4 separate regions of the Homo sapiens genome follow, and all the other regions are linked to region 4. Evidence: fine-mapped expression QTL. A gene starts in region 4. Each other region holds a variant in brackets. All regions are shown on one strand. Distances are from middle to middle. Region 1 has its middle 78 kb from the start of C17orf67. Region 2 has its middle 110 kb from the start of NOG. Region 3 has its middle 24 kb from the start of NOG. Region 4 holds the start of NOG (noggin).

The links.
Region 1: its variant is fine-mapped to the expression of NOG in fibroblasts (GTEx, PIP 0.99).
Region 2: its variant is fine-mapped to the expression of NOG in esophagus muscle (GTEx, PIP 0.94).
Region 3: its variant is fine-mapped to the expression of NOG in whole blood (TOPMed, PIP above 0.99). The same link has a PIP of 0.9 or more in blood mononuclear cells.

Annotation. Positions count from the first base shown.
Region 1 is chr17:56,751,713-56,759,859 of GRCh38, reverse strand. No RefSeq gene overlaps it. Among named protein-coding and RNA genes, the nearest start is that of C17orf67, 78 kb to the left of the region's middle. The variant G/C (reference allele first, on the strand shown) is at 3,180.
Region 2 is chr17:56,694,843-56,702,989 of GRCh38, reverse strand. No RefSeq gene overlaps it. Among named protein-coding and RNA genes, the nearest start is that of NOG, 110 kb to the right of the region's middle. RefSeq lists enhancers at 2,314-3,290, 3,067-4,266, 3,291-4,267. The variant T/A (reference allele first, on the strand shown) is at 3,396.
Region 3 is chr17:56,613,791-56,621,937 of GRCh38, reverse strand. No RefSeq gene overlaps it. Among named protein-coding and RNA genes, the nearest start is that of NOG, 24 kb to the right of the region's middle. The variant A/T (reference allele first, on the strand shown) is at 4,219.
Region 4 is chr17:56,590,002-56,598,148 of GRCh38, reverse strand. It overlaps NOG (noggin), which reads right to left and starts at 4,450. Exons shown (of 1, transcript NM_005450.6): 1 at 2,538-4,450. The coding sequence starts at 3,925. The coding sequence ends at 3,227. RefSeq lists silencers at 2,075-2,275, 5,388-5,597.

The DNA of each region.
Region 1 (8,147 bases), 160 kb before region 4:
TTCAAGTTGAGATTTGGGTAAGAACACAGCCAAACCACATCATTCTGCCCCTGCACCCTCCAAATCTCATGTCCTTACTTTTTTTTTTTTTTTTTTGAGACAGAGTCTCACTCTGTCACCCAGCCTGGAGTGCAGTGGCGCGATCTCGGCTCACTGCAAGCTCCACCTCCCGGGTTCACGCTACTATCCCGCTTCAGCCTCCCAAGTAGCTGGAACTACAGGTGCCCGCCACTACGCCTGGCTAATTTTTTGTATTTTTAGTAGAGACAGGGTTTCACCGTGTTAGCTAGGATGGTCTCGATCTCCTGACCTCATGATCCGCCCGCCTTGGCCTCCCAAAGTGCTGGGATTACAGGCGTGAGCCACTGCACCTGGCCCATGTCCACACATTTTAAAACTTATCATGCCTTCACAACAGTCCCCCAAAGTCTTAACTCATTTCAGCATTAACCCAAAAGTCCACAGTCCAAAGTCTCATCTGAGACAAGGCAAGTCCCTTCTGCCTATGAGCTGTAAAATCAAAAGCAAGCTAGTTACTTCCTAGATAAAATGGGGGTATAGGAATTGAATAAATACAGCTGTTCCAAATGGGAGAAATTGGCCAAAACAAAGGGATTACATACAGGGCCCATGCAAGCCTGAAATCCAGCGGGGCAGTCAAGTTTTAAAGCTTCAAAATGATCTCCTTTGACTCCAGGTCTCACATCCAGGTCACGCTGATGCAAAAGGTAGGTTCCCATGGTCTTGGGCAGCTCCGCTCCTGTGGCTTTGCAGGTTACAGCCTCCGTCCCAGCTGCTCTCACAGGCTGGTGTTGAGTGTCTGCGGCTTTTCCAGGCACATGGTGCAAGCTGTCAGTGGATTTACCATTCTGGGGTCTGGAGGACGGTGGCCCTCTTCTCACAGCTCCACTAGGCAGTGCCACAGTAGAAACTATCTGTGGGGGCTCTGACTCCACATTTCCCTTCTGCACTGCCCTAGCAAGGTTCTCCGTGAGGGCCCTGCCCCTGCAGCAAACTTTTGCCTGGGTATCCGGGCGTTTCCATACATCTTCTGAAATCTAGGTGGAGATTCCCAAACCTCAATTCTTGACTTCTGTGCACCTGCAGGCTCATCACCACATGGAAGCTGCCAAGGCTTGGGGCTTCCACCCTCCGAAGCCACAGCCTGAGCTGAAGGTTGGCCCCTTTCAGCCGTGGCTAGACAGCTAGGACACAGGGCACCAAGTCCCTAGGCTGCACACAGCACGGGAACCTTGGGCCTGGCCCACAAAACCATGTTTTCCTCCTAGGCCTCTGGGCCTGTGATGGGAGGGGGCTGCTGTGAAGGTCTCTGACAGGGCCTGGAGACATTTTCCCTGTGGTCTTGGGGATTAACATTAGGCTCCTTGCTACTTATACAAATTTCTGCAGGTGGCTTGAATTTCTCCCCAGAAAATGGTTTTTTCTTTTCTATAACATAGTCAGGCTGCAAATTTTCTAAACTTTTACACTCTGCTTGCCTTATAAAATGGAATGCCTTTAATAATACCCAAGTCACCTCTTGAATGCTTTGCTGTTTAGAAATTTCTTCTGCCAGATACCCTAAATCATCTTTCTCAAGTTCAAATTCCCACAAATCTCCAGGGTAGGGGCAAAATGCCACCAGTCTCTTTGCTAAAACATAACAAGAGTCACCTTTATTCCAGTTCCCAATAAGTTCCTCATCTCCATCTGAGACTACCTCAGCCTAAACCTTATTGTCCATTTCACTATCAGGCTTTCGGTCAAAGCCGTTCAACAAGTCTCTAGGAAGTTCCAAACTTTCCCACGTTTTCCTGTCTTCTTCTGAGCCCTCCAAACTGTTCCAACCTCTGCCTGTTACCCAGTTCCAAAGTTGCTGCCACATTTCCGGGTATCTTTTCAGCAATGCCCCGCTCTATAGGTACCAATTTACTGTATTAGTCAGTTTTCACGCTGCTGATAAAGACATACCTGAGACTGGGAGGAAAAAGAGGTTTAATTGGACTTATAGTTCCACATGGCTAGGGAGGCCTTAGAGTCATGGCGGGGGGTGAAAGGCACTTCTTACATGGCAGCAGCAAAAGAAAATGAGGAAGAAGCAAAAGCGGAAATCCCTGATAAACCCATCAGATCTCATGAGACTTATTCACTATCACAAAAATAGGACGGGAAGAAGACTGGCCCCTATGATTCAATTACCCCCCTCCCCCCGGGTCCCTCCCACAATATGTGGGAATTCTGGGAGATATAATTCAAGTTGAGATTTGGGTGGGGACACAGCCAAACCATATCAACTTATATTTGCAAATATAATAGTGATATAATTATTTGGGGCAAATAAAGGAGGTGAGAGTGATGTAAAACAGTAAAATTTGCTTCCTGATGTCATAAGAAAGAATTAATAACCACTATATAAAATTAACAAATCAAGAAACAGGTAAATAAAAATACTCAGAGATTTGAAATCAGCTACCAGAAGAAACAAATAAAAGAGATAAAAAGTAGTTATCTTTGGAGTATGGAACTAAGGGTGGCAAGGGATGAAACACTTCTATATTTATCTTATTTTTTAACTGTGTGCATTCTTAATTTTACTTAAAACAAAAGGCAAAAGGCATAGGTTTTAGTTAAGCAATTCATATGCTATTCTAGTGGATTTGAAATCCCTCTTTGACACTTGCTAACCGTGTAGGTGCCTGGCCCAGATGTGGGGGGTAGGAAATGTTAATTTCCTTTCCCACCTTCTGAGGGTTCGTTCCTGTAATCACCAGAAATGTACACTTCCTGGGCTATTTCATTCAGCCCCCAACCTTGTCCACTGAACAAGACAACTGAGTCGCTACACCAAATTCTAGGATCCACTTTGTCACACCAGGCCTCCTTACACATATGACTCCACCTCCAGATACATAATAGCACTCAGTGAACATTTGGTGAAACTGAATAAAAATGCCTGTAGAGACCAAATGCCTCATGCAGAGACCAAATGCCTAGAGATACCCAGTGCACACTGTCTGTGAACTTCTCTTTTGATGCTGCATAGAAACAGCACCATGCTTATTCCTTCAGCATGTGTCTGTGCAGCTTCTACTATGTCCGTGGTAAGCAAGTGAGTCATGGCCTCAGCCTTCATGGAGACAGACATTCAGTAAGTCGGTATGTAATTACACACTGCAATA[G/C]GTGCTATGAAAGAAAAGAACTGGACTCTTAAGAAAAAATAACTTTATTGGAAGGTCAAGGGGGACTTTTCAGAGGAAGTGACATTATGAGCTCAGGACATATGAATCTCAGAGTTCAAGATTTAAAAAAAGGAGTGTGGCTGGGCGCGGTGGCTCACGCCTGTAATCCTAGCACTTTGGGAGGCTGAGGCGGGCAGATCATGAGGTCAAGAGATGGAAACCATCCTGGCCAACATGGTGAAACCCCGTCTCTACTAAAAATACAAAAAAATTAGCTGGGCGTAGTGGCGCATGCCTGTAGTCCCAGCTACTCGGGAGGCTGAGGCAGGAGAATCACTTGAACCCGGGAGGGTGGATGTTGCGGTGAGCTGAGATTGCACCACTGCATTCCAGCCTGGCGACAGAGCAAGACTCTGTCTCAAAAAAAAAAAAAAAAAAAAAAAAAAAAGGAGTGTTCTAGGCAGAGAGAGCTGCATGTGCAAAGGTCCCGAGGTGGAAAAGCTGAATGTGCAAGAGTGCTGCTTCTCACACTTCACTGTGCACCTGGGGGTCTTATTAAAAGGCAGACTCTGTCTCAGTAGTTCTGGAGTGGGGCAGAACTCCTGAATTTCCAACCCACTCCTAGGTGATGCCAGTAGCATCATGTTTGAGGAACTGAGAGATTTATGGACAGCATAGTGAGCAAGGGTGAGAGCAAGGAGATGGGACTGGAGGAGGCAGAGACCAAATCATGCAGGAGCTTGGGGGCCACCTCCTAAATGTCAGCAGGAGAGTCACACAGTCTGATGTGGCAATTGACAAAATGCCTCTTAAATTTTTAAAGTGCTCTGTAACGTTGCTGACAATGGTGGTGGTTGAATTAGACCCACTCTTGGGAGTTTACAATCTTGGGCTTGTTCCTTGTTGCTGGAGAACCCTAAAGAGCCAAGGGGTTGCTAGAAGTATTTATACTAGAGGCTGGCAAATCACACAGCCAGGAAGTCCACCCTGCCTCTCTCCTCTCCCCTTTCGTGCCCCACTGGACCTGTTGTTGAGTTCACGAAGGAGGCAGTGGGGCATGTTGGAAAGACTCACGGTGAAACCTCAGCCCGCTACTTGCCTCCTATGTATCTTCCTAAGCTTGAGCACGCTCTTAATGTGCCTGAGCCTCAGTTTCCATATCTGTAAAATGGGGATGCATAAACCTCTCTGGCAGGGATGTTGGGATGATTGGAGATAATGTAGGAAAAGCATGGCCATTCAGTAACTATTAAGATGGGTTATTCCTGATTTCTATTCCCAAGTGCTGAATTTAGGAAAAGCTCACAACACCTTCTGCACAAAGTTTAATGAGTTGAGGCTGTCAGGACCCCCCCCCTTTTTTTTTAACATTGAAATGCCATCCCCCAGCAAAGTTCAGGTGAAAAGGATTCCCTGGTCTTAAGTAAACCAGTAGTATCTTGGGTTAGACTGGCAAAATACAGGCCAAAAGAAAAAAAAAAACCGTAAATTTTTTCTTTCTGAAAAAGCAAATTCTTAATAGAAAAAAAAAAAAACAGCTGAGCTCCACTGCTTGGGTCTCTGCTGACCTCTCCCTCTGCTGTCTGTCTGTCTGTCCATTGGCCTCTGTCATTTCTACTCAACAACAGGATGCCTTCCTTCTCCCTCCCCCTCCTCTCTGCTGCAAACAACCCCGGAGCCACTCTGTCTGCCCTGTGCTCTGTTTAAAGGAACAGACACCCATTTCTCACAGAAGAACTGTTAGGTAAACAATAACATATTTTTTTAAACCCAGAAAGTGGCTCAACACACTCAGCATGGACTGACTGTCTCTAGCATTCCCCGGCTAGCTTCAGGACAAAGGTCTCCAGAGGAAGGATGCTTCTTTTCTTTTCTTTAAAAGAGTAAAAGAGGACAACAGGAAACCCAGGCAAGAAAGGCCCTCAGACTTGAGGCCAGCAGACAGGAGCCTGGCCTCGGCCTAAAGAGCCCTGGGAAGCTGCTCTTGGCAGCCCCGGCCTGAGTGGCAGGAGAGGATGGCTTTTGCTCCCTGAGGCCCTGTCCCTAAATGCACCTCCCAGCAGTGTGTGAAGTCTCCCCCAAGCCCTGACTTCACTGCACCCTCCTAACGACACCGGGAGTTATACCTTATTACCTCTGTTTCACCGATGGGGAAACTGAGGACCAGAAGGATGAAGAAAGTTGCCCAAGGTCACATAGAATAAAGTTCACCTCAGGACTCACACCCAAGTCTAGCTGACTCCAAAGCTCATTTTGGAATCACCCACAACATGGACTTCCTGGATCCCAGACTTTTGGATGACTTGACTTCATCCTATAGCCTTTCAAGAGAGAAAAGGCTCTACTTTCTAGATCTGTAGGATGGGACCTGGGGAAGTGAGCAGCTTTGGGTTACTGGTGGGCCAGGAATAGGGCTGGGGTTCCCAGGGTCCTGACTCAAAACCCAAGGCTGGCCATTTCAATAAGAGAAAAAACCAGACCGGGTGTGGTGGCTCACACCTGTAATCCCAGCACTTTGGGAGGCTGAGGCTGGTGGATCACTTGAGGTCAGGAGTTCGAGACCAGTCTGGGCAACATAGTGAAAACCCGTCTCTACTAAAAATACAAAAATTAGCCAGGCGTGGTGGAAAGTGCCTGTAATCCCAGCTACTTGGGAGGCTGAGGCGGGAGAATTGCTTGAACCCGGGAGGCAGAGGTTGCAGTGAGCCGAGATTGTGCCACTGCACTCCAGCCTGGGCGACAGAGCCAGAGTCCGTCTCAAAAACAAAAAACAAAAAAACCTTAAAAAATCAATAAAAGAAAAATCCAAAGAACAGGCTGCGGTCAGCCCCTCCGTTTCCTTGCTTGGATGTGCTTCTCTGAAGAAGCAGAAGTCTTCCCTCCTGCTACCCTATGTTTTTCTGAGCTGCGTCCACAGCTGCCATCCACAGAGGCCAATGGCTGCACACCCATGTTCCCATCTGTCCGTAACAACAGAATAATTCCCAGAAAAATAAAAATACAGAATATGTTCTCAAACCAAGAAGGAAGAAAATGTTTTTGGTTTCTTTGAAACACTGCACCTATCTGCTGATGGGGATAAGTCGACTGGGAGAGACAATGTGGGGTGCAGAGCAGAATGCCACTGGCTTTGGGCCAAGGCAAACCTGGGTTCAAGAGCAGCTTGCTAGTGTGGGTCCAGGGAAAATCCCTTGTGTATTCTGATGCTCATTTCTTCATCTGTCACACCTGCACCGACAGGTTATGGAAGGTCTTCTCTGTGCCAGGCCTTCTCCAACTATCCTCACAGCAGCGTGCAGGATGGCAGCAGGCTTATTTTTGCAGGGACGAAACGGAGGCTAGAGAAGTTTACTAGCTGGCCTAAGATTGGCCTGGCTCCAAAGTGAATGCCCTTAACTACTAAGCTGAATCGGGTATGAGCATAGAATGTGCAGGGGACAGCATAGGCGCTCAGTCAATGCTGATTGATTTCCTTGATTCCTTGACAAATCAAATGGAATCAATAAATCAATTCTGAGCAAAGGGTTCTAAGTAAGGCTTTGGTGAGGATAAAGGAGCACTTGGTGTCTCAGCTCCCTTTGTCCCTAGCACCCTAATAAACTCTGTAAAGTGAGACCAGAGATGAGATTTGATCATTAGAATGGAGCTGAATGTTGTCATCTTTATTTTTCCTCCCTAAGAAGACAAGGTATTGCCAGTGGAGGGTCTTGACTATGAGTCATCCAGGTTCTTGGTGCATTGAACAAGGAATTGGACAAAATGCACAAACAAAGCAACGAAAGAATGAAGCAACAAAAGCACAGATTTATTGATGTGAAAATATACTCCACAGAGTGGGAGCGGGCTCAAGCGAGCAGCTCAGGAGCACGGGTTGCAAAATCTTTAAGTACCTTTTAGAGATTTCTTATTGGTTTCACCCTATTGGAGGCTGAAGTAAAGTTACACCCTATGCAAATGAAGACTGGGCCCATGAAAAATCAGCCCTATGCAAATGAAGAATTGGCCCACGACCAATCAGAGGCTGAAGTGAAGGCTTCCTGTCTCCAGACCCTATTCTCCTGCCTCAAAGGGATACCCAAGTTAATTCCCTAGACTGGAGGAAGAGGGAACAGAAGAACAGAGCTGTAGGGAAGAGGCAGTTTTCATGCCAAACAATGCAATTGACAATGATGACAACAGGAACCAGAATGCACTGAGTGCTTACTATGGGCAGGCACTGTGCCAAGTGTTTCACTTAATGGACATGCTTTGAGAGGGTGTGATGGCTGTTCCCCTTCCAGATCCATGCTTTGCCCTTCCTTCTATGCAGGGGAGGCTGGACCCTTATAGACCACATTAACTGGGCTAGCTTGCCCTCTGGCTTCCTTTTGGGCTTGTCCAAGGGGAGATACTATTAGGAAATCAGAGGGCGAGAAGAGAGGTTGGGGTATTTCCTTTCTGCCCCGTCTATGCCACAGCTCTGTGTCTCTCACAGTGACAGCTCTTAGCGGTGGGTCCCTCCCTGTCACCAGCAAGAGCTGGTGGCCTCTCAGCCCTGAGGGAGGTAACAGCTTTACATTATCTAGTCCTTGGGCGTCTCAGCATCCCACATTGGGTCCCTTAGCCCTGCTCCCACCTCCATAAACAGTTCCTTCATGAAGTTCTCTTCAAACCCACCCTACCCTGCATCTTCTGTTTCCTACAACCCACCAAATCCTTCTTTCTCTGTTTTGCAGAGGAGGAGGCTGAGGCTCAGGGTAACAGATCTTGCCAGGGCTGCAGTGCTTGTAGGAGACATAGTGGTCTTTCCAATTTCACTATCTCATACAAGCTGGCAGGCTGGATGGGCTTCCCCTGGTCCTACAGGGGAGTATACATTGGGCATATGGAATATACATGGCTTCCGAAACAAACTCCTGGGTGCCTGACATCAGGGCTGCAGGGAGGCCAGAGGCAGGTGAAAGTAGGTATGTGGGGTGCAGGGTGGGG
Region 2 (8,147 bases), 100 kb before region 4:
CCTGCTCTGCTCCACAATATTAAGGTGGATTGCAACTCCCTCCCACAAACCTCACAAACACATACTACCATAAGATGAAAAGTAAAAAGATAGAGATTCTGTGAAATAGAAAAAGAAAGGTAGTTGAATGAAATGCAGTAAAAGAAAATTTAGTGGTCGGGCACAGTGGCTCACGCCTGTAATCCCAGCACTTTGGGAGGACCAGGTGGGTGGATCACTAGGTCAGGAGATTGAGACCATCCTTGCTAACACGGTGAAACCCCATCTCTACCAAAAATACAAAAAATTAGCTGGGCGTGGTGGCGGGCGCCTGTAGTCCCAGCTACTTGGGAGGCTGAGGCAGGAGAATGGTGTGAATCCGGGAGACGGAGCTTGCAGTGAGCCAAGATGGCACCACTGCACTCCAGTGTGGGTGACAGAGCGAGACTCCATCTCAAAAAAAAAAAAAAAAAAAAAAGAAAATTTAGTATACATAGTGTGTCAGGGTGCTGCTGTGGATAATAGTAACACCACCTATCATTTATTGATGACCTATTATATGCTAGGCACATGTGATCTATCTATCTATCTATCTATCTATCTATCTATCTATCTATCATCTATCTATCTATTATCTATCATCTAAATTTCACTTCCACATCTGCCGTATGAGGCAAGTGGTAATTAACTCTCTTTTACAGATAAGGTTCACAGAGTTTAAATGACTTGCCCAAGGTCCCATGTCTTGTCAGTGGGGACACTTGCAGGAGAACCTACATTCACATTGTGAGATCCTGAAAGGAAAGATGCAAAATCCACTCTCAACATTTTCAGTGACCAACGCAAACATGAGGACATGACCCTCTAACACGCTCGCTCACATCACCTACCGGGTAAAAGCAGCCACTTGCTGTTTGCCTTGACACTGAGGTCTGAGAGGAGACTCCTCACAGGTCTTCTAGGGAGACACTGAGTGATGTTGGGAATACTAGTGATATCCTAAGCCCTAGCAGTGATGCTGGGGGTGATATCCCTGGGAGAAGGAGAGAGAGGAATGGTGAGAAGTCTCTTGGGTTTTAGCTTGGCCGAGGAGGCAGTAGGATGACCTTCCTATGAGTGCACAGAGAAAAGAGTTCATGGTCTGCAGTTTGAGGATGTTGAGACTCAACATCAGTGGTAGCCTGCCTGCCTCTCTTCTTCCCCCCTACCTCCTTCCTCCCTTTCTCACCCTCTCCTTCCTTCCTGAGGGTGAATTAAAGAAGACAATAATTGACTTTAAGAGCCATCTTTTGTTTTCTGCTTAAAACAAAATAACTGTATCAAGTCCTACGAGGGGATTAAAAGTGATTTCTCGAGAGTTAGATCACTTACGTAAGAGAAGGATGCTAATGAGTGAAGTAACACTGAATTTAACAACAAGAAATATCATCACTATCAGAATTTTTTGAGAGGCAGTACACGTTGATGGCCTCTTACTATTCATCCCCAAATTAAATCATGGACCCAATGACACTAGGTGGGCCACGTGTGGCCTGTGGGGTGGGTTGCTCATCATGGCTTTACATATTTTGGGTAGAATTCACCCAATGACTTTGCGCTGAGTCCCTAGGAGCACCCACCCAAACCAGCTGTTTAAAAAGTGAGAAATAAGCCTATCTACAGATGGTTAGTTGCCTCATTCTCTCTTCCAATCAGATGAGCGGATTCTGACTTTTAAGTGCACCCCCCCTTCCCTGCCCCAGCAATCCACCATATTGCCGTAAGCATGTTTGTACCAAGTGTGGACAGCTGCCAGGGTTCCAGGCTCCAGCCCCTGGTGCTTTCCCTGCTCCTTCAACTTGCTGCTCTGCATCTGAACCCTGGCTCCGCCTCCGATTTCTTTATCTGTTCTGCTCCTTCCCCTCCCTCTGGCTCCCCAGTTCGTGCCTGGCCCAGCGCACTGCCTTGATCTTGTTCTCCTGCTGGGTACAGGCCCAGGCTGAGGGTTCCCAGCACAGGGATTTGAAAAGTGGGCTTCCATAAAAAATGATGAGTTCATGTCCTTTGTAGGGACATGGATGAAGCTGGAAACCATCATTCTCAGCAAACTATTGCAAGGACAAAAAACCAAACACCGCATGTTCTTACTCATAGGTGGAAACTGAGCAATGAGAACACACGGACACAGGAAGGGGAACATCACACACCGGGGACTGTTGTGGGGTGGTGGGAGGGGGGAGGGATAACATTAGGAGATATACCTAATGCTAAATGACGAGTTAATGGGTGCAGCACACCAACATGGCACATGTATACATATGTAACAAACCTGCACGTTGTGCACATGTACCCTAAAACTTAAAGTATAATAATAATTAAAAAAAAAAAAAAGAAAAGTGGGCTTCAGAGTTGGGGGAGCTGGAGTCTAATGTCAGCCTACCATCTGTTAGCTCTGTGACCTTAGGCAGCCCATGCCACCTCTCTGAGCCTCAGTATACTTGTCTAGAAGGTGGAAACGATTAGATCTACCTCACAGAACTATTGAGAGGGTTGGATGTGAGAGAAGTTGGCACAAGCCTGGTAAGTAAGAAGCACTCAATAGGTACTGGTTATTATTGTTACCAGTGTGAGATTTTTTTTTTGACCAAATCTCGCTCTGTTGCCCAGCCTGGGGTGCCGTGGTGCAATCTCGGCTCACTGCAACCACTGCCTCCCAGGTTTAAGCTATTCTCGTGCCTCAGCCTCCCCAGTAGCTGGGATTACAGGCGTGCACCTATTTATCATGCCTGGCTAATTTTTGTATTTTTGGTGGAGACAGGGTTTCACCATGTTGGCCACACTGGTCTCGAACTCCTGACCTCAGGTGATCCACCCACCTTTGCCTCCCAAAGTGCTGGGATTACAGGCGTGAGCCACTGCACGTGGCCACCAGTGTGAGATTTTGAGTCCATCTGCATATGGGGTACTGGGAGCAATACAGAAAACCAATGCTTTTAAACACTGCATTCTCAAGGTTTTTTTTTCCAAATGTACAACCTCATAATAATAATTCCAAGGTGTTATAATACTCTCAATTTGGTGATGAGGAAACTGAGGCATAAAGGGAGAAATGAGGACACTTAATGTCACAGCCGGCAAATGGTGAAGCCTGGACTTGAACCCAGGCCTCCTGAGTCCCAGTTCCGGAAAGCAACACAGGCGGCTGCTTTGATCTTCCAAAGCTGCTGTCCAACAATGTGCCAAGAGGAAGACAGAGCAGAGCTGCTCCTCTGGCCCGGCCCCTCCGCCCTGATTGCCGGGTGGCGGGCCTTGCAGGAGGAATTCGAGCGGCTGGCTTGTGCTCATGCCTGAGGAATGTCTTGAGAAGTCGTGCCTAAGCCCTCTGTATCTGACTCATCATCTCCCCGTCTCCAGGAGTGTCAGAGAAGAGCTCCCTT[T/A]ATCCCTCCTGTCCTCGGTCCCAGGCTTTCATTTGTCAAACTAAAAATATTCCCTCCGGGAACCTCCTTTTGCCAGAGGCTGAACGAGGTATAAGGGGAAAGGCATTTTAGTGTCACTTCCTGACAGCGCCTTGTTATTGTTCCTGGGCCAGAGGAGCAGAGCCGGGTGGCAGGAGCAAGGCGCCTCTGTCATTCTTGGGCCGGGGCCAACCTGTTCACCTTTCTCCTGCAAGCAGCCTTCCCTTTTTCCTCTCTCAAAGCTCCAGACAATAGTCCATCAGTCTGACATGTAGCCTTGTCCCGGTCCCTTGGGGCTGTGTGTGATTCATGCCAGGTGAGGACTACAGAATGCCAACTTCATTTCCTTTGCAGCCTAAGGGCTGGCACAGTTTGCACTTGTCTGCAAGGCTAGTTTACTGATAAAGAGACGTAGAGCTCGAAGGTAAAGGAAAAAAAGGGTAAAACAGATGAAGGTGGAACTCCCCAAGTAGGACAATGGCAATATGGGGAAGCCATCAAGATTTGTCTCCTGTTTCTCTCCTTCCTTTCCTTTCTTCGTTCTGTCACTTCTGGCAGCCTGTTGGCCCCAGGGCTGATCCCAAGAGTCCATGACCTTGACTTGGCCTAAAATCTTGGCTCATAGCCATAGAGCCACCTCCCTGGCCCCACCAGGGAACCCACTTCCTCGGTGGAAATAGAGCATAGTGAAATCAAAGGAGCACAGAATTTGGATCCAGGCCCCCCTTACCAACTAGCTGTGTGAATTTGAGTAAGGTATCTCATTCTCTGAGCCTGTTTCCTCATCTATATGGGTGGATAATAGTACCCATTATACCAGGCTATTGTGAAGAATAAATAAGGTGGTGTGTATAAAATAAGTCATACTATGCCTGTCAAACAGTAGGGTCTTGAATCATCATCACCATCATTGTTCCTCCAAGACCTTGCAATGGTGCCACTGCACCACTGGAATCAGAAGACCTTGTTCTAGTTTCAGCTCTGCCATTAACCAGCTGTATGGCTCCAGGCAAATCCCCTAATGTCTCGGAATCACATGTATTAATTTGTAAAATAAAGAAGAATTTAGGCTTGATTTCCTCTAAGATGCTTCTAAGATCTAAAGTCTGTGGTCATCGAGATACCTGAGAGTAGACATTCATGGAAAATTTCATTCTTTTAAAGAATATAAGAATAACCTTAGTCTAGGCAACATAACAAAACCCCATCTCTAAAAAAATACAAAAATTAGACAAGCATGGTGGCACGTGCCTGTACTTTCCGCTACTCAGAAGGCTGAGGTGGGATGATCACTTGAGCCCAGGAGGCAGAGGCAGTAAGTTGAGATTGCACTACTGTACTCTGGCCTGGGTGACAGAGTGAGACCCTGTCTCAAAAAAAAAAAAAAAGAGTAAATTGGCCAGGTGCAGTGGGTCCTGCCTGTAATCTCAGCACTTTGGGAGGCTGAGGTGGGACGATCAATTGAGCCCAGGAGGCACAAGCAGTAAGTCGAGATCACACTACTGTGCTCTGGCCTGGGCACTTTGGGAGGCTGAGGTAGGAGGATTGCTTGAGCTCAGGAGTCCAAGACCAGCCTGGGCAACATAGGGAGACTCTGTTTCTACAAAAAATAAAAAAATTAGCTGGGCATGGTGGTGCCCTCCTGTAGTCTCAGCTACTTGTAAGGCTGAGGCAGGAAGGTTGCTTGAGCTGGGGAGGTCAAGGCTACAGTGAGCCGCGATCATGCCACTGCACTGTAGCCTGGGTGACAGAGTGAGGCCCTGTCTCAAAAAAAAAAAAAAAGAAAAAAGAAAAAAGAAAAAAAAAGTAACTGCTTGCTGTGGACTAAATTGTGTCCCCTCCAAATTCATAAGTTAAAGCCCTAACCCCCAATGTGACTATATCTTAAGATAAGATCTTTAGGACATAATTAAGGTTAAATGAGGTGGTACCCTAATTTAATAGGACTGTGGCCTTATAAAAAGAGGAAGAGCAAGAAATCTTCCCCTCTCCTGCCATGTGAGGACCCAGAGAGAAGGCAGCTGTCTGCAGGCCAGGTGGAGAGTCCTCACCAGGATCCGAACTTTGCCAGACTTTCGTCTTGGCTTTCCAGCCTCCAGACTGTCAGGAAATAAATTTCTGTTGTCTAGGCCACCCAATCTATGGTATTTTGTTCTGGCAGCCCAACTTGACTAATATACTGCTGAAGGAAGGCCATCTGGCAAGGGAGCATTGAGGCAGAGAACGTAGTATCCAGCAAATCCTGGATAACCCTCATTGAACTAAAGAGGAATGATGGAGTTTCTACAGGCAGAGGGAGAAGCCACACACACCCAGCCAACTTTGCAGTCAGAAACCAGCTGAAACACTGCTATTAAAAGAAGAAATTTGGTCGGGCTCAGTGGCTCATGCCTGTAATCCTAGCACTTTGGGAGGCTGAGGTGGGCAGATCACTTGAGGTCGGGAGTTTGAGACCAGCCTGACCAACATGGAGAAACCCCATCTCTACAAAAAATACAAAATTAGCTGGGCGTGGTGATGCATGCCTATAATCCCAGCTACTCGGGAGGCTGAGGCAGGAGAATCGCTTGAACCCAGGAGGCAGAGGTTGCTTAGGCAATAAGAGCGAAACTCTGTTTCAAAAAGAAGAAGAAGAAGAAGAGGAAGAAGAAGAAGAAGAAGAAGAAGAAGAAGAAGAAGAAGAAGAAGAAGAAGAAGAAGAAGAAGAAGAAACTCTATTTTCAAACATGAATAGTGATTAACTCAGGCTCTGGAGTGAGACAAGTTGAGTTTGAACCTGAGCCCTGTTGCATGCTGGCAGAGTGACTATAGAAAACTTAATTGACCTCTTTGGGTCTCATTTCCTCAGCTGTCAAATGAGTCGTTGCTGCTACTTCCTAGCTCTGTAGAGTAAATGTGATAATCTACACAACGTGCATAGTCCAGTGCTCCACACATAGTAGTACTTGATAAGTGTCGGCTGCTACTGGTAATAATGTCATATTGTAAATAATAATTATTAATTAATAATAGTTTCATTCATATAACTTGCTTCACGTGCTTAAGCTAAAAAATAAGCCCACGCTTCCTGTGTTATTCAAGCTGAAACTGATCATAACCCTGTCTCTCCATCAGAAGATTGCCTTTCCTTCCTGGTGTCTACGCTCCCACATTGAACTGAAGAGGAATGATGGAGTTTCAACTTATAGTTGCAACCCTCCAAATGCTTATTCATATTAGATCCAGTCCCACTGGGGATTCTATCAGATGCAGGTGTGCCACCAGGAAGCTGGTGAGGCCCTAGCTGTCCTGGGTCCACCTTTGCCACGTTAGTTGCTGGAGCAATGAATCTCCACCTGACATTCTCAGCTCCGGCTCTAGTCAAAGTCACGGCACGTTTTTCTGCTCCTTCTTGGGAGGGCCTTCATGTCCTTTCTGCTCAAGTGACCTCACTGTACAACCTCAATTCTTTAGGTTTTTGAATAATCTAAAATCCAAAAGCATTGATCTAATAGCCTTTTCAACAAATGATGCTGGAAAACTGGACACCCACATGCAAGAAACTGAAACTAGTGAGAGGCCTCCCACTCTTCATAAAAAATTAACTCAAATTGGATCCTAGATCTCAATGTAAAATATAAAATTATAAAACTCCTGGAAGGTAACACAGAATAAAATCTAGATAACCTTGAGTATGGTGATGACTTTTTAGATACCACAATAAAAGCATGATCTGTGAAATAAGTAACAGATAAGCTGGCTTTCATTAAAATTAAAAACTTCTGCTCTGTGAAAGACAATGTCTAAAGAAAGAGAAGACAAGTCACAAACTGGGAGAAAATATTTGCAAGAGACACATCTGATAAAGGAATGTTATTCAAAATATACAAAGAACACTTAAAACTCAGCAATAAAAAAGCAAACAACCTGATTAAAAAATGGTCCAAAGACTTTAACAGACACCCCATCAAAGAAGATATACAGATGGCAAATAAGCACATACAAAAAGGCTCTGCATTATATGTCATCAGGGAAATGCAAATTGAAATGACAATGAGATGCCACTACATACCTATTAGAATGGCGGAAATCCAAAACACTGATAACACCAAATGCTGGTGAGGATGTGGAGTGACAGGAACTTTCATTCATTGCTGGTGGGAATGCAAAATAGTATAGCCACTTTGGAAGATGGTTTGGCAGTTTCTTACAAAACTAAACATACTCTTACCATGCGATCCAGCAACCACACTCCTTGGTTTTTAACTAAATGAATTGAAAACTTATGTCCACACAAAAACTTGCACACAAATGTTTGCAGCAGCTTTATTCAAAATTGACAAAACTTGGAAGCAACCAAGATGTCCTTCAGGAGGTGAATGGATAAATAAACTGGGGTACATCCAGACAGTGGAATATTATTCATCGCTAAAAAGAAATGAGCTATCAAGCCACAGAAAGACATGGAGTAACCTTAAATGCATACTACTAAGGGAGAGAAGCCAAACTGAAAAGGCTACATACTGTAGGATTCCAACTACATGACATTCTGGGAAAGGCGCAACTCTGGAGACAGTGAAAAGATCATTGGTTGCCAGGGGTTAGGGGAGGGGGAAGGATGACTAGGCAGAGCACAGAGGATTTTTAGGCCAGTGAAACTATTCAGTATGATATGGTAATGGTGGATACATATCATTATGTATTTATCAGAGCCCACAGAATGTACACCAAGAGTGAACCTTCATGTAGACTGTG
Region 3 (8,147 bases), 24 kb before region 4:
GAGTGGAGGCCCATCAGGAAGTCTTGTAAGGCATGCTGTAGAGCTTGGCTTCCTTCTGTGGAGTGACTGGGTTTTTAAAGCAGATGTTTTAAAAAAATGAGATGGTATTTGCATGACACTAACGTGGAAGAAACAGAAAGGTGCAACTGGAAGTCAGGAAACCAGCTAGGAAGCTGTTGCTATAGTCCAGTGGGGAAAAATTCGGGTCTGAGCTGAAGACATGGACAGGGGAGGTGAAAAGCAAGCCAAAGATCAAGAAGTGTTGGTCTTGAAATGTTAAAATATACACTAACCACTTGCTTTTTGAAAAGGCTGGTTATTAGAATCCTCCTTTGAGGGGGCTACACACACACAGAAGTGATAGTGTTGCCTTTATCTGGAAAGTGAACAAACACACCCTACAGAAAAATGGTAGAATAAAAGTATCCAACAAAAGAGTAAATATGTATAATAATTACAGTATTGGGCCGGGCACAGTGGCTCATGCCTGTAATCCCAGCACTTTGGGAGGCCGAGGCGGGTGGATCACTTGAGGCCAGGAGTTTGAGACCAGCCTGGCCACCATGATGAAACACCATCTCTACTAAAAATACAAAAATTAACTGGGTGTGGTGGCACATGCCTGTAATCCCAGCTACTTGGGAGGCTGAGCCATGAGAATCACTTGAACCTGGGAGGTGGAGGTTGCAGTGAGCTGAGATCATGACACTGCACTCCAGCCTGGGTGACAGAGCGAGAATCTGTCTCAAAAAACAAAACAAAACAAATTATAGCACTGGTGTAGTCTGAAATAAATGCATGTATTGTGTAGGATGCAAGTAGGTAGGTATGTAAGAGTTGGATGGTTTTAGCTTGGGGATCTCTTGTGAGGTTGTAGTCAGGATTAGGTGGAAGTTTTGGTTTTTGGCTGGAGAGTCTGCTTCCAAGATGGCTCGGTCCTGTGGCTGGCAAATTTATTTTGGTGTTAGGCAGAAAGCCTCAGTGTCTCACCACAAGAACCTCTCCATAGGGCTACTTGAGTGTCGTACCAACAGGCTTCCCCCATGGGGAGTGATCGAGAGAGCAAGGTAGAAGTAGCGATGTCTGTTATGATCTCGCCTTGGAGGTCACATGCTGTCACTTCCACAATATCCTTTTGGCTATTCAGGTCTGTCCTCTTCGCTATGGGAGAAGACTGTACTAGCATATGAACCCAGAAGGGGGGATCACTGAGAGCCATCTTGGAGGCACAAATGGGCCTTGGTCTACCTGAGAGTGGGCTAGGTAATGTGGTGCAAAGGAATGCAAGCAAGATTTGGAGGCAGAAATTGGTTGATTGACCAGTAGGATCCATGCCTTAGATCCTCATCTGTAAAATGAGGTGCATAATCAAAACCCTGATGGCTAGTGAAGGTCATTTGAGACAAGGCTTGTAAAATGCTTTTTGGGAACCATAAAGCATGATAGTATGACATACAGTGACTGCATAAATAAAAGGGATCATTATGAAGTCCCATATTTTATCTGGATGGGAGGTTTAGCCTTGATGAATCTCAGACCTTCAAGAAAGATACTTGATCCTTTATTTCTGTGGCTGTAGAAATCCAATAAATAACATTTATTGATCTTCTACTTCTACATGCCAGGAATGGCACCATAATAATTTCATTTCATTCCCTCAATGATGCTGAGAAATGGAATCTATAAACCACATTTTATAAGTGAGAAAACCAAGGCTCAGTGAGATTAAATAACTTGCTCTGAACATGGGAGAGCTGGGGACACCAGCCCAGTCCTGCTGGACCCCAACGCATAAGCATGAGGCAAATGGGAGATGGGCTTGGTGGGACCTGAAAAAAGTGTCCCCACCCTGCCCAGATCTGGGGCCTGGGATGTCCTCATGGCTGGGGTTTTGCAGGTCTCTGGCAAGGGAGGGTGAACGGTGAGTGACAGGCCTCTCCTACCCCTGCACATTCTTGGTCTTGAACTGATGAGGGGTCTTCTTGTGTGTGTCTGTGTGTGTGTATGTGTGTGTATGTGTGACCACACTGGCAACCGCTGCCATCCCAAAGCTGGGGATTAGGGTGACGAGTCCTACAGTGCCCTCCAGAGTTGGACGTAGGCCAGGGCTGCATTGGGCCTTGGCCTCCTTGGAGGACGGCTCCCAGACCATTCTCGGAAAAGCATTTGCAGCAAGGCTACTCCAGGTGCCAGGCCGGGCCATCAATCCCTCACTCTTCGGAGCAGTGAGTTTATAAAGTAGCAATTAAATAAGAGCTCTGTAAGTGCTTCTGGGAACTGCCCTGAATGCATTTTCCAAACATAAATAACGGGGACCTCCACTCTGAGCAAAGCACATACAGAGCAGAGAAGCAGTGCCAAAAAGAAGGGAGCCCTGTTGTGCTAACGAGTTGGGCTACGTGCCCCTGGTGTGCACGTGTGCTCCGTGTAGGTGGCAAGTCCATTTGTCTTGCCTGCCTGGGTGGCATGTCAGCCTGTCCGGACAGTTCGTGGTGAGGAGATGGTGGCTGTGACACTTGTTCCCCTGGGAAGGCAAAACATTGTTATTTCAGAGATAGTGATAATGATGGTGGAAGCAATGATGACAGCTGTTATTCATTGAGCACCTATGGTGAACCAAGAGCCCGCAGATCCCCTATTACTGGGAGGATTAGAGACTTGTCCAAGGTGGAAAAGCCTATAAGGTGGAGGGAAAGATAAATGAGAACTCTTCAGCAGCTTACATGTATTAGGCTCTTATTATACGCCACAAAGTGTTCCAAGAGTTTTACTTGCATAAGCTTACTTAGATCTCCCAACAAACCTGTGTACTAGGTACTCTTCTTATCCTATTTTGAAGGGGAGAAACTGAGGCATGGAGAAGTCATGTCTCTTTCCCAGGGTCACACTAAGCCAACATTCAGGTGCAGGCAGACTTGCTCCAGAAACCCTACTCCTAACCATTTCTGTGCTGCATTGGTCCTGAGCCCTGGTACCGGGTGCCATCCTATCTTTTCAGTTCAGGTTTGATTATTGTCAACAGTCTGTCCCTCCCCAAGTATGGGCAGCAATGTCTTTCTCAGAAAACAATACTCCCCTAAGTCCCCCTGCCTGTCTCAGTGAGCCCTCCTGGTCTTAGGCCTAGCCTTGGCCCGAGTCTTCCTCCTGTCCCCAAGAGCTGGCTCTCCCAGCCATGAAGGGATCCCGAAGGGCCATGCTCACTCTGCTCTCCCACTTCGTGCCTTTGCCCATGCTGGTCCTTGCCCCTGGATGCTCTTTCCCTGCTTGTCCACCTTGGGATTTTAAGTCATAGATGAAAGCTCACTCACTCTTAGAAGTATTTCCTGACCTCACCTCCACTTTAACCCCCACCGTCCAGCTGAATGCGTCCATCAGAACATATATCAAATTCTTATTATTGTTGATTTTCTAGTCTGTCTCCCCTGAAACAGTGTTGCATGTCCTGGGATGTATAGCTCCTCACATGGTGCCTGGCACATAGTAGGGATTCAATAGATATTGATAGGTAGGTGGAGCCATTTTCCAGAAAGAGTGGACACATCAGATCACACCTGATCCTGAGTTGCTAAGAGCTCCAGCCATGACTATGCCTGCTCCCCCCAGAGCAATGTGCAAGGAACAGGACTGAATAGAATGAGCCCTGACCTTGGCTCTGCCATGAACTTGCTGAGTGGCCTTGACCAAGTCATTCCACTTCTCTAGGCTTCCATTTTCTCATCTGTATAACAGGAACAATTATATCTTTTTGGCAGATCACCTGAGGCTTGAATAGGATACAGAAAACAAAGGCACCCAGCACATCATTGGAACTTGATAAATATTAATTTTCCTCCCCCTTCCCCTTACCGTGAAATGGGCTCTTGGTTTGGGGATAATTGAGTGGCACTGTAAGACACCCTTTGCAACAGATGCCTCTGCAGGTTTACCATTTTCCCTCCACGTCACTAGGGTATTGTCTCATTGTTTTCTGCAGAAGACCCTGCCACCACTAAGCTTCTTCCCTGCCTTTCTTGGGGTTCTGAAGCAGCCTCTGGCCACCAACTCTGTCATGCCACACCTGAATGCTGTCTTCCCTGCAGTCACTCACCAGAGAATCCCATCGCAAAAACCCCATCAAGAATCTAGCCCCTGTTCATTCCAGAGTCAGGAGTCAGTGATTTCCCTGTCTTGGACTCCATCTAAGTTGCCAGTGATTAAGAAACTCATATATTTTCACAC[A/T]CATTAAAAGAAACATGATGTTCACTTTTCCAAGAAAAGCCATCCTTGTTTGTAGACCCTGTAATATATTGGGAACGCCTCTTAATTGGCTTCTAGGTCTGAGTGTCAGAAGTCAGACCCAAGTTTGTTTATTGACACAAGAAAAAAAATAAAACGTCGTATAATTAGTTGAGTGACTGACTCTAAATTCAGTAACTCCCATTGGTATGTGGCCTTGTCAGGGTTTAAGATTCCATTTTGGGTTATGAAAGAGGCCGGGTCCTAGGTAGTCCAGACGCGGGCCGCACTGCATCATAGCTATTGTACAAATGGGCTCAGTGTGCTGTTTGTGTTAAGATGGAAAACTTTTACATGTTTGATTTTTATGCAAGTCAATTAACTTGTTTTTTATAACTGTAAGGGCTTGCTTTGCAAATAAGATTACTTACCACTATAAATTATGGGAACATAGGGGCCTATTCAGACAAAATGTTACACACCCCTAACCCGTGCACCAGGCTGCATGCCGGCCTTCTGCAGGGGGGACAGCCAAGGCGAATGGGACAGGGAGGTGAAGGAGGAGGGAGGGGTTATTTTGGTGGATTCTGAGGGGCCCTTCCAAGAAAGATGCAAAGGGGGAGTGGGGAGATCTGGGGGCAGAGATTAGGAGTGAACCGCAATACTCTTCTCTGTGCTCACCCCCACCCCAACTCTCCCAGGTTGACCAGAGCTGGCCAAGACCTTTCCTTACATGGCAACACAGGAATCTCCTTTGAGGATTTTTTTTCCCCCAAATGTTTGCTTCTTGGTGACAGCATATCCCCCTGAAGTTGGAAAGTTGGAGAGGGCTAAGTCTGGGCTTTATCCTCACTGTCATTTGTTGTCCTTCCTGCATGGTGGTTCCACGCCCATTCCAGCATTCAGTGGGCAGCCCCCTCCCAAAGCACAGGGAAGGAGCAAGGTTAGGACAGAGGGAGGGAGAGGAAGAGGAGCAGGCATTCCTGGGGGGCTGCCACTCAATGGTGGAGAGGGGGCTGGGAGGGTTTCAGGCAGGACTGGGAAAGAGCAGGGCCAGTCTTTGGTCCCTCTGACTTACTCCTTCCCTTCAGGTCCTTAGCAGAGGGCACTGCAGTTCTATACATAGGTGTTCTGGAAAGCCAAGTTGGGACTCTTGTTTCTCAAGCCCTTTTGTGAACTTGGATGGATTCCTTCCTGTTCTAGGTCTCAGGTTTTTTCATCTGTGAAATGTGAGCAGAAACCCCAGCCCGGCATACCTCCTACGGGTAGGTTGTGATCCTGATGTGATCCTCAACAAGGTAATTTTGCAATTTTGCATTCCAATCCCATGGACATGTAGCAATGTCCAGAAACATTGTAGCTGTTACAACTAAGGGGTGGGTATGGGCATCTAGGAGTTAGAGGCCAGGAATTCTGCTAAACACCCTGCAAGATACAGGACAGCCCCTGCTCCTTGCCTTCCAACAAACAATTGTCTGGCCCAAAATGTCAAGAGTGTCAAGGTTGAGAAATTCTGTTTATCCAAAGCATGTGAAGGAAAAGGAGACCTTCTTGGTGTGATCAGTATTTGGGACAAGATTTAATTTACTGAAGAATCAATATAGAATGTCTAGTCACTCAGAAATAAAGGGATGTCTTCAACAGTGGCAACAATACAATCCTTCACAAATAAATAGGACATTGCTGCTGATTCAGTGCTTTTAGATGCAAATTTCACCATTAGAGTTCCACAGTAACTGTATGGCGGTAGCTAGAGAAATAATAATTATTTGAATAATCCTAATAAGGATTATGATATTATTCCTATTCTGCTGATAAAGAGACTGAAACTTAAACATATGAAATCGGTGGGGCGAAGTGGCTCACGCCTGTAATCTCAGCACTTTGGGAGGCAAGGCGGGCAGATCACCTGAGGTCAGGAGTTCGACACCAGCCTGGCCAACATGGTGAAATCCCGTCTCTACTGAAAATACAAAAAATAGCCAGATGTGGTGGTGGGCACTTGTAATCCCAGCTACTCGAGAGGCTAAGGCAAGGTAATTGCTTGAACCTGAGAGGTGGAGGTTGCAGTGGGCTGAGATCACACCGTTGTACTCAGCCTGGGCAAACAGAGCAAGACTCTGTCCCAAAAAAACAAAAAGCAAAAAAGTATGAAATCATTAGTCTAAAATCACACAGCAAAATCTTCAAGCACAGGGTCTTTTTACATATTTGTTGAAGAAATCAGGACGCATATAATCATATTATCATGAAAAAACTGATTTGAGGCAAAGCCAAATGACATTGTCAGGCATGACTTCACTGCACTTGAAAATGCTTCCCAAAGGGAGGCCTTCCTTTTTAAGATAATTGTGCTGTCCTCCACACACCTTGAGTACTTTGTACCCACTCTTATTGGGTCATAGGTTGTGGCTTCTATGTCTGTCACTTCTATTGAATTGGGGGCCCTTTCAGGGTAGGGGCCGTATCTTAATCATGTTGACAGGCCTCTTCAAGCTGCAGTTTCCTCTTCCAGAAAATGAGACAATGGCTGCAACCTTACCAGATAGACCTCCATTAAATGTCTGTGGAGCACTGGGGTGAAATAAGAACGCTGGCTTTCCCCAGTGCCCCAAGCTTCTGTGCCCACCCCTTCATTCTTTCCCTTGGCTTGTTTGATATTGTGCCAAGTGGCAGAGAAGGCAAAAGATTTGTAAAGAGTATGAGAAGAGTCATTGAACTCTGAGGACCGTATTTTATTTTTTGAAATCTGGCTTATGGAAAACTGAGAATCACAGGTGTTAAGGGGAACTGATCTTTGAGAATCCAATTTTCATAAGAAATAGAAACCAGTGGTGAGATTTCAACTTGAAAATAAACTTCAGCTCTGGCTCATCAGATCATCCAAGGAATCAAGTGTCCCCAAAGAGATGAAAAATCAAGCTGTTACTTGGCAGATCTGGAACTCACAGAACTGTTAGCACTCAGCCTCTGCATTTGGAAATGGCAAGATTCAAATCTGGCCTGATGTGTTCTCCCTTAGGCTGCTCATGATGTGTGTCTGCTGGATGGAGGCCTCAGAAAACTCATTTGACATCTTGGCTGTAACTTTGTCCAAGTCTGTGTCTGATGTCATTATGCAATCAATTCTATACTAGATTCTGCCGGGTAAGATCTTAAAAGACAAAAGCTTTGTTCTCCAGATCGTCACTGGTTTTGAGGACGTACCTTGTTCATTCATTCATTCATTCATTCTGCAAATTATTTATTAGAGCAAATTAACTTCTGTGACTCTCAATCTTCTCTTCTACATAACAGGAATAATAAACCTTGCTTCATAGGGTTAAGTTTTAGGCATATGGCTGGTACTCAAGAAATGATTATTATTAGATTATTATTATTATTAGATTCTTCACAGAAGTCTTAGTAGTAGTCAAAGCATAAAAGACATTTAAAGGCTGGACGCTGTGGCTCACATCTGAAATCCCAGCACTTTGGGAGGCAGATGTGGGAGGATCACCTGAGGTCAGGAGATCAAGACCATCCTGGCTAACACGGTGAAACCCCATCTCTACTAAAAATACAAAAAATTAGCCAGGCATGGTGGCGGGCGCCTGTAGTCCCAGCTCCTCGGGAGGCTGAAGCAGGAGAATGTCGTGAACCCAGGAAGCAGAGCTTGTAGTGAGCCGAGATCGCACCACTGCACTCCAGCCTGGGCGACAGAGCGAGACTCCGTCTCAAAAAAAAAAAAAAAAAAAAAAAAAAGATTAAGTAGGGTCTACCCCTTGCCTCTAGTCTGGCATAGTAGAATTACTGTTATTTTCTCATTTTTTTAGTTGAAGAAACTGAAAGTGAGGTAAAGAGTCTTATACCCATGAACTGGACATTATTATTTCTTTCCTTTCACAAATGAGAAAACTGAGGCATAGAGATGATATTTAACTCTCCCCTAG
Region 4 (8,147 bases):
GACACAGCCCCCCAGCAGCCGCATAAATTCATAGACACAGGTGTCAGAACCGCAGAAGTCACTAGATCAATTGTCCTCCTTACAGGAGATAGGCACTGGATGACCGAAGAGGACAGTTTTCTTGCCTCTTTACCCAGAGCTCTCTCCTCCTTTCCGCATTGATGCTATTATTAGTATTATCGGCATTAATAATAATGGAGAGGTAACCAGCTGCGCATTAGGCACAATGTTCCAGGACCAGCACTTCCTTCGTTAGCTTCTGGGACTGCCTGGGTCCCGCTGGGTCCTCTCCCGCGGCCGCAGCGGCTTCGGGCCTGCTCTCTGGTTCTGTGCATCCGGTGGTCTGTCTGTCGCCGGTCACGTCTGCAACCCGCGTCCTCCCAGCTCACACCGGCTCCTGCTCTGAAAGCCGAGAAGCTCGCCGGCTGCGGGCGGGTTTTCCAAGTGGGCAGGGGTGGGGAGGAGGGGCGCGGGCGGGCGGGCCCGCGGAGGGAGGAGGGGGCGTCGCGGAGGGGAAGACCTCGCATTGTAATCCAATGACATTGCCAACGTGGGGGTGGGGGCGCTGGCCTCGGCGCGCTCTCCGAGTTTTGGCTGCCCGCCCAGCTGGGAATAACTCTCTTCGCATAATTCGCGTGTTTACCAGGCATGAAAATTCTTGCTTTCGCCCCCCTCGCATAAGACCCCTCCTCTTCCCCACTCCCCACCACCTCCGCCCCTCGCAAGTGAAACTCTGTCTAAAAAAATATTGGCCCGGGGCACAGAAAGTTTTGCATAAATTCATAAGTGATGAATGGCTGATTTTAACGTTATTTGGGTATTTGTCAGAACTTAACAAATATACATGGGGACGGCAGTTCATAAACTTAAACATCTCAATATCCCCTTTCTTCTGGAAATAAATTACGTTTGTTTGCCCAGCTTGGAGTCTTAAGGTAGCCGACATTAGGAATATTTTAAAAGCCATCATCCATCGAGCATGTCTCCCAGGCGCCAGGAAGATTAAATGAAAGAATCATAAGATGGAGGTCTTTAACTTTTAATCCTTTTACAATGAAGCCTCAGATAGTCGCGGGGGCAGGGTGCCCTCTCTGGGGGGAATAATGCCGTTATTCCTCGGCTCTCAGTTAATGAATACCCTAACGTCTGTCCCACGGCTGACGGAGGCAGCGCCGGGGAGGGGGCTCGGCTCCGGGGCCAGGCTATTGAAATGAGGAGCCATCGAGGCTGCGTCGGGAGGGAAGAAAGCGCCGGGCTGGAGGGACAGGGCGGGCGGGGCCGGGGGCATTGAGACTGCGCTGGGGACCAGGCGCAGGTTTGAAATAATTAGCATAGATTCGCCGGGACTCCGGACTTGGGGGGTTGGGGGGGGTGGGGGGTGGGGTGGAAGGAACGCCGGGAGGGAGGCGCGGAGAGGTGGCAGGGAGGTGGGGAGGGAGCAAAGGAGAGCGACTTTGGAGTCCAAGATAAATAAAGAGAGCGCTGAGCAGTGTCAGGAGGCTGGCCCACGTGGAGCTGTGAGGACGGGCGCCACTGGGGACTGAGGCGGAGGGACGCATGCGAGAGTCAGGCGTCGGTCCCAAGGAGTTGGCTTTTTAAGGGGTGGGGTGGGAGTGATGTTTTGCACGTCCCTTTAATGGGTTACGTGCCTTCTGCCCCTATCTAATCTTAAAGCGCAAAGATTCCGGTTCCGATTTCTCCCTCCTCCCCACCCCTCAAGGGGAGAAAGTGCCCGAGCACAGGCATACTCTCTTCCCAAAAGCAGATGCCAGAGGTGGTGATTTTCACCCAGATTCGGACCCCTCCGAAACCATGGCCCTTAGTCTTCCTTAGGTCCCCGGGGAGAGGGGAGGCCAGTGTCAAATCTCCCTGATATCCCCAGCACCTCCGGCCGAGGGCCTGGGATTTCGGGGCTCGGACCTGCAAGATCCCGGAGGCTGTGAGCCTTGTTGATTCCAAGGGATTGCCTCAGTTCGTACCACCGTAGCTTCCGGGCATGCAAAGGGTTAACATGGGCTGGATATTGAGGTGGGGGGTACGAGGCGGGAGGGGTGGCGGGATCTGGGTGGGCGCGCTCTGATCTCCCCCCCTCCCCATTCCTCGGGGGTCAAGTTTCAGCGGCACTCCGCCCCCAGGGTAGGTGTGAAAGACACGTGTCCCCATTGTGAAGGGCCTGTCAGGCAGGACAAAGCGGCCGCCCACCCTCCCCCCGCCCCTCGGCCCAGCCTGGGGTCAGCTCCAGGGGGCCGGCTGGGTGTCGAGGTCACTACAGGCCCGAGCTTTGGTGACATAGGGGGAAAAGCTAGGAGACTAGGCGGAGGCCACGTGATGTTTTAGTGAGGGGTTAGAGAATATCGCCCCCCCCCCCAACGCCCTCAAAAAACTAAGTCACCTCCATCATACCACAGGAGGGGAGTCCGAGGGGATGAGCCCCTTCCCCAACGGGGTAGGAGGCACAGCAGCATCCCCTACCCGCCCCCTCCCACGCCCTCCCACCCCCATCAATCACCAACACAGAAAATCAGTGTGGAGCGCAGTCGGTTTTAGTGGTTTTCTTTAATCCTGCTCTGCACTTCTTTCTCATTTACTACACGGGATATTATAAAGAATAAATAGCAGATACTCTTAATTTACAATGATTAGTCATTCCATTTGTTCTCTATATTTACAATAACTGTAAAATAACATTGAACTCTATAGCTTCTTCGAGGTCCAAGGAAAACCAAAACACTTTCCGAAGAATGGAAAATAGCTTTTAAAAAGTCCTCTACAAAAGTTCCCCCGTCTCTTTGTACTTCAAGAAAAAAATAACTTTTCCCCCCTGCTTCGCCATGCGAAGGGCACTGGAATATAAATAGCAGGTTAACATTATTAGCAACAACCAGAATAAGTCTCTCTTTTCTCTGTTCTTTTTTTTTTCTTTTGCTTACTTTTTTTTAAAAATACAGTAGAAGCCGGTAACTTTTAACGTATAATACTGACCTTTTAATAAGTAAATTAAAACTGGGACCGTATATACACACACATATACATTCCTACACAGTTAAACAGTGCATTACAGGAACCAGAAAGCTAGGTCTCTGTAGCCCAGAAAAAAAAAAAAAAAAAAAAAAAAAAGTTCATTGAAAACCCTCGCTAGAGGGTGGTGGAACTGGTTGGAGGCGGTGCAGGGGGCGTCGGTGGGGATCGATCAAGTGTCCGGGTGCGGGCAGGGGGCCCCCGAGTTCTAGCACGAGCACTTGCACTCGGAAATGATGGGGTACTGGATGGGAATCCAGCCGCAGCGCTGGCCCCCGCGCCGCTGACAGCGCCACCGCAGCACCGTGAGGTGCACGGACTTGGACGGCTTGCACACCATGCCCTCGGGCACGGAGCACGAGCGCTTACTGAAGCAGCTGCCCACCTTCACGTAGCGCGGCCAAAAGCGGCTGCCCAGGTCGTTCCACGCGTACAGCACGGGGCAGAATGTCTGCGACCACAGCCACATCTGTAACTTCCTCCGCAGCTTCTTGCTTAGGCGCTGCTTCTTGCCCTGGGCCAAGCCCTCGGAGAACTCTAGCCCTTTGATCTCGCTCGGCATGGCCCCCGACGGCCGCTGCCGCAGCAGCTGGTCCAGCTCCGCCAGGTCCTCCGCGCCCCCAGCTGCACCCCCGCCCCCGCCGGGCCGGTCCTCGGGGGGCGAGGTGGCCATGAAGCCTGGGTCGTAGTGGCCCCCGAGCAGCGAGCGCAGCAGCGTCTCGTTCAGATCCTTTTCCTTGGGGTCAAAGATAGGGTCTGGGTGTTCGATGAGGTCCACCAGGGGCAGGTTGTCGCTGGGTGCCGGGCGGATGTGGAGATAGTGCTGGCCGCCGGCCGGTGTCGCCCGCAGCCCCAGGACCACCACCAGGGCGTAGAGGGTGACCCCTAGGCTGGGGCAGCGCTCCATGCCTCTGGCGCGCGCCCGGGGCTGCTGCTTCGTCCCGCGTCCCCGGAGGAGAGCACGCCGAGCCCGCGGCGCCGCCGCGCTCCCCCGTCTCTCCGGAGGCGGCTCACCCGAGGCTGGGCAGGCGCAGGGCCGGCAGCATGAGCCGCCGGGAGAGCCCTTCGCGCAGCGCCGGCTCCCACCGGGGCGGAAGAAAGGCACACAAGTTGGCCGCAACTCCTCTCCCGGGTCTACTGGGGAAGGCGGCCGCGGCTGGGCATCCGAAATTACTCCAGGGCGACCGCGGGGCGCGGGAGGCGCCGGCTCCTCGCTGCCTTCCCGGGCCGGCGGCGGCGCAGGGCGCGTGGACGAGCCGCTCTCCCCTCCTCCTCTCGCTGCTCTTCGTCCGGCCGCTCTGTGCAAGCGCCGCTGGCTGAGCTGGTTCTAGGGGCACTTCCCTCCGCCTGCTCCGGGCTCCGCGGCCGGCTCTGCCCGGCGGACTCCAGCGGCGGCGGCGGCGGCGGCGTCCGCGCACGTTGGCACCGGTTTGTCTGTCTCGCAGGGTCCAAGCCTTTAAATTTCCTGCACTTTCAGCTCCATCACCATGGAAACCACTGACTCTCTCGGCGTTGCCCCCTCCCCCTTCTTCCCCCCAAACAACAACCCCACCCCCCACTTCTCCACCCCCGAGGAGCTGGAGCTGCACAGGCTCCGGGGGAAGCCGCCTGTACTCGCCGCGGAGGCGGCGGCGGCGGCTTCGGCAGCGCCCAGGGCTGTGCCCCGCCGGACCCAGATGCCCCGGGAAGCCGACAGTCCGGCTGCCCGCCGGAGCTCACAGGCGGCGGCGGCGGCGGCGGCAGCGGCGGTGGCGGCGGCGGTGGCGCTTGGCAGGTCTCCGCGCAATTTTCTCTCTCCCCCACCACCCACCCCCCTTCTCCTCCTCCTGCAAAATGCACCGCCCCCCTCCTTTCTCCTGGAGCAATGCAACTGGGGCTCTAGGCGCCCCGCCAGGGCCAGTCCTGGGGAAAGCTCGCGGCGGCGCTGGAGCCGGGCTGGAGGGTGCAGAGCCGGTGTTTGGGGAGGGGGGGCGGTGCTTGAGGTGGGGCTGGAGGGTTTCTCACTAGCTGGGTGCTTTGCACTGGGAGGGGAGCAGCGGGGAAGTGCTGGGGGCTCGTTTCTCGGTGCATGCAGTTCGGAGCAAGAAATTTCTCCATGTGCATGGAGCGTTTTCCCCGAGCGCGTCTTCTTCTCTCCCGGGCTCTTGCTCTAAGTCCCCTCCCCCCAACACACATATATACACACACACACACACACACACACACAGCCCCTACCCCACCCCCCTTTGCACCAGGGAGTCCGAGAGCCGCAGCGTTGCGCAGCGTGATGTAATTCTTAGGAAGCACTCCTGTCTGTCTGCCCCTCGGGCCCACGAGGGGGTTCCGCTCCTCACCATCCTCCTCCTCCTTGGCCGGGTCCTGCACCCTGAGTGGCCTAGCCTCAGGGGCGCGACTGGCTCGCCTGCGGCTCCCCTAGCCCGCCCGGCTCCGCGCGGCCGCCGCTCGGCTCCCTGGGGGCGGCGCGCCCTCTGCTGGCCCGCTATGAGCCCTGCACCTGGCGCTGGCGGGGGCGGCCGTGCGAGGTGGGTCGGCCGCTGCCCGCTCTGCCCAGTTCAGCTTCTGCTTCTGTGTCCCTGTCACTTTGTGTGTGTCTGCGTCTGCTGACTGGTCCGTTTTGGTTCTGGCTATTTTCCCGAAGGTCTCCAGGCCCCCAGTGTAAACAAACTTCCTGAGATTCCTTCTCGGTCCCCTCAAATTTCACAAGAATGCGTGCAGCACCTTCTGCCTCAGGTAAATCGGTCTCTGGTCTCAGTGGGTGCGAGTGGGGACCAGAAACTTGAAAGGTGAGCTGACAGCAGAGGCACCTGAGTCTTGCCCGGGGTCCACCCTGATATAACTCGGACAAGTCATTTTTCTCACTTTTCGCATTAGTGACGTAACTATTAATAGATTTCTCTTCCAGCCCTACCTTTCTGTGATTTTAAATAAACCTCCACGATGCTTTCTCTTGTTCAGAAGCAGTTTCTCTTTGATGGGAGATGGGTACTGAAGGGACACCTCCGGTTAATTTCCCCTTGGACGAGGAACTCAATCTCAGCTTTAAAATGCAAACTCAGTTTTCTTTGTGGTGAATGTGATTGGAATCTGGAAAAAGCTGGAGAAGAGAGACTTGGAGTGGATGACTCAAGTATTTGCCAGTCTTCCATGGAGTGGGAGTTAAGAGGTCCCATTGTGACAACCTAAATCGCTTAACTTTCTTTCCCCAAAGATCTGGTTTTTCCTTTCAACCTGCCCCACCCCAACTCCCAAAGTTTATCATCTGTCTAAGGAAGAAAACACTTTGTTGCATACTACAGTCTTTCTGCAAAACCTCTATTAAAAGGGGTGGGCAGTTTCCGCTGAAAGCGTTTCCCTCAATTTTAAAGTCTAGACAACTAGAATTAGACTATCAAGGGACTGCTCAAAAGGAGATCTTGCTTTGATGGATACTGGAGTTAACAACAACCCATTGGTTGTTTGAATTGGGCTGACTTTGAAATAATGTGTGATTAGAACCTGGTACAGGCCGGGCACGGTGGCTCATGCCTGTAATACCAGCACTTTGGGAGGCTGAGGCAGGCGGATCACTTGAGGTCAGGAGTTGGAAACCAGCCTGCCCAACATGCTGAAACCCTGTCTCTACTAAAAATACAAAAAAAAAAAAAAAAAAAAAAAATTAGCTGGGCGTGGTGGCAGGCTCCTGTAATCCCAAGTACTTGGGAGGCCGAGGCACGAGAATCACTTGAACCTGGGAGGCAAAGGTTGCAGTGAGTTGAGATTGCACCACTGTACTCCAGCCTGAATAACAGAGTGAGACTCTGTTCCCACCTCCCCAACTCCTCCCCCTCCAAAAAAAGAACCTAGCACATAGTAGGCTCCTAAGCATACCTCTTTCTTTTTTATGTGCTTTATGGGGATTCAGCACTAGTTTGTTTCCTTATGAAGATTACATGTTCCAGAGCAATTTTGTCACTGATGTGAATTAACTAAGAAAATTATTTAGTGGAGTTCAAGGGCTAAACTCTAGCTCAGCCCTCCTGAGATGGTAGGTTCCAATTAATGACATTATATCATGCTGGTTTCTGTTCTTTTAATCCCCCTCTTCTCTCCTTCAAATCACCTATTTTTGCTTGAAAACCAACCCAGATCCTTTATTTAGTTGGGCTGAGCAGATTTGACTGAACAGCAAAAAAGGTCCCTCAGGAACCAGAAACAAATCATGCTTGAGAACAGATTGGGTGACCTGTTTATGGAGTATCTACTGGGTGAAGACCATCAGGAAAAATACAAAGAAGAAAAAATTCATAGTCAGTCTCCATCCTGCAAGACTTTTGTAGTACAGTTAGGGGAGATATGACAACCACAAGAAGAAATAGTAAAAGGACATCAGAAAAATTTATAAATTCCCATAACAGTGTGGACTAGTTTTTTATAACCTTTTCTTTTTAAAATCCATGTCCCCTTTTGATAGATATAACAATATCATGCTCTTCTTTGAATGTTGTTTAAAGTTTTTAAAATACATTATTATAACCAAAAAGAAGCCCAAGCAATTATGTTAGCTATACTGTTTTCAAACCATATCTACCCCTCTTCAATGTGAAGTTCTGAAATGCCACATTTGGGAAGCTTGCAACTCCTAACTCTGTGCCACACTGGAGTAGCCCATGCGCTTAGGTACTGAGTGAACCTGGGGATGTTGGTATCAGAGACTAGGAAGTACTAAGACCTTAATGGTAGAGCTGAATTTTAGCTGAGCTTCATGAAGAAGGATGTATTTATCTGAGTATGGAGAGGAAGAGATTTGAGAGATAGGATATACATCTACATGAAGAAGGGAACCACACTTGTATGAGGGACAGCCAGAAAATCTGGGGATATGAGAGGTGGAAGAGGAAATGTCCCAGACAGGGAAGCACCACGACTTTTGGACCAGGTGGATTTAAGTTGGAATTCTGGCTGTGCCCCTCACCGGCTGTGTTACCTTTTTAAAACAGTCATCTTAACCACCCCGTTTCCATTCTCTCATCTGTAAGATGGGGATGATACACACCTCTCAGAATCATGCCACGTAAAAGAGGTAAGGAATGCCTAGCCTAGTAAGGTGCCTGGGGCAGAGCCTATATCGGGCAATGGTTTTACAACACGTT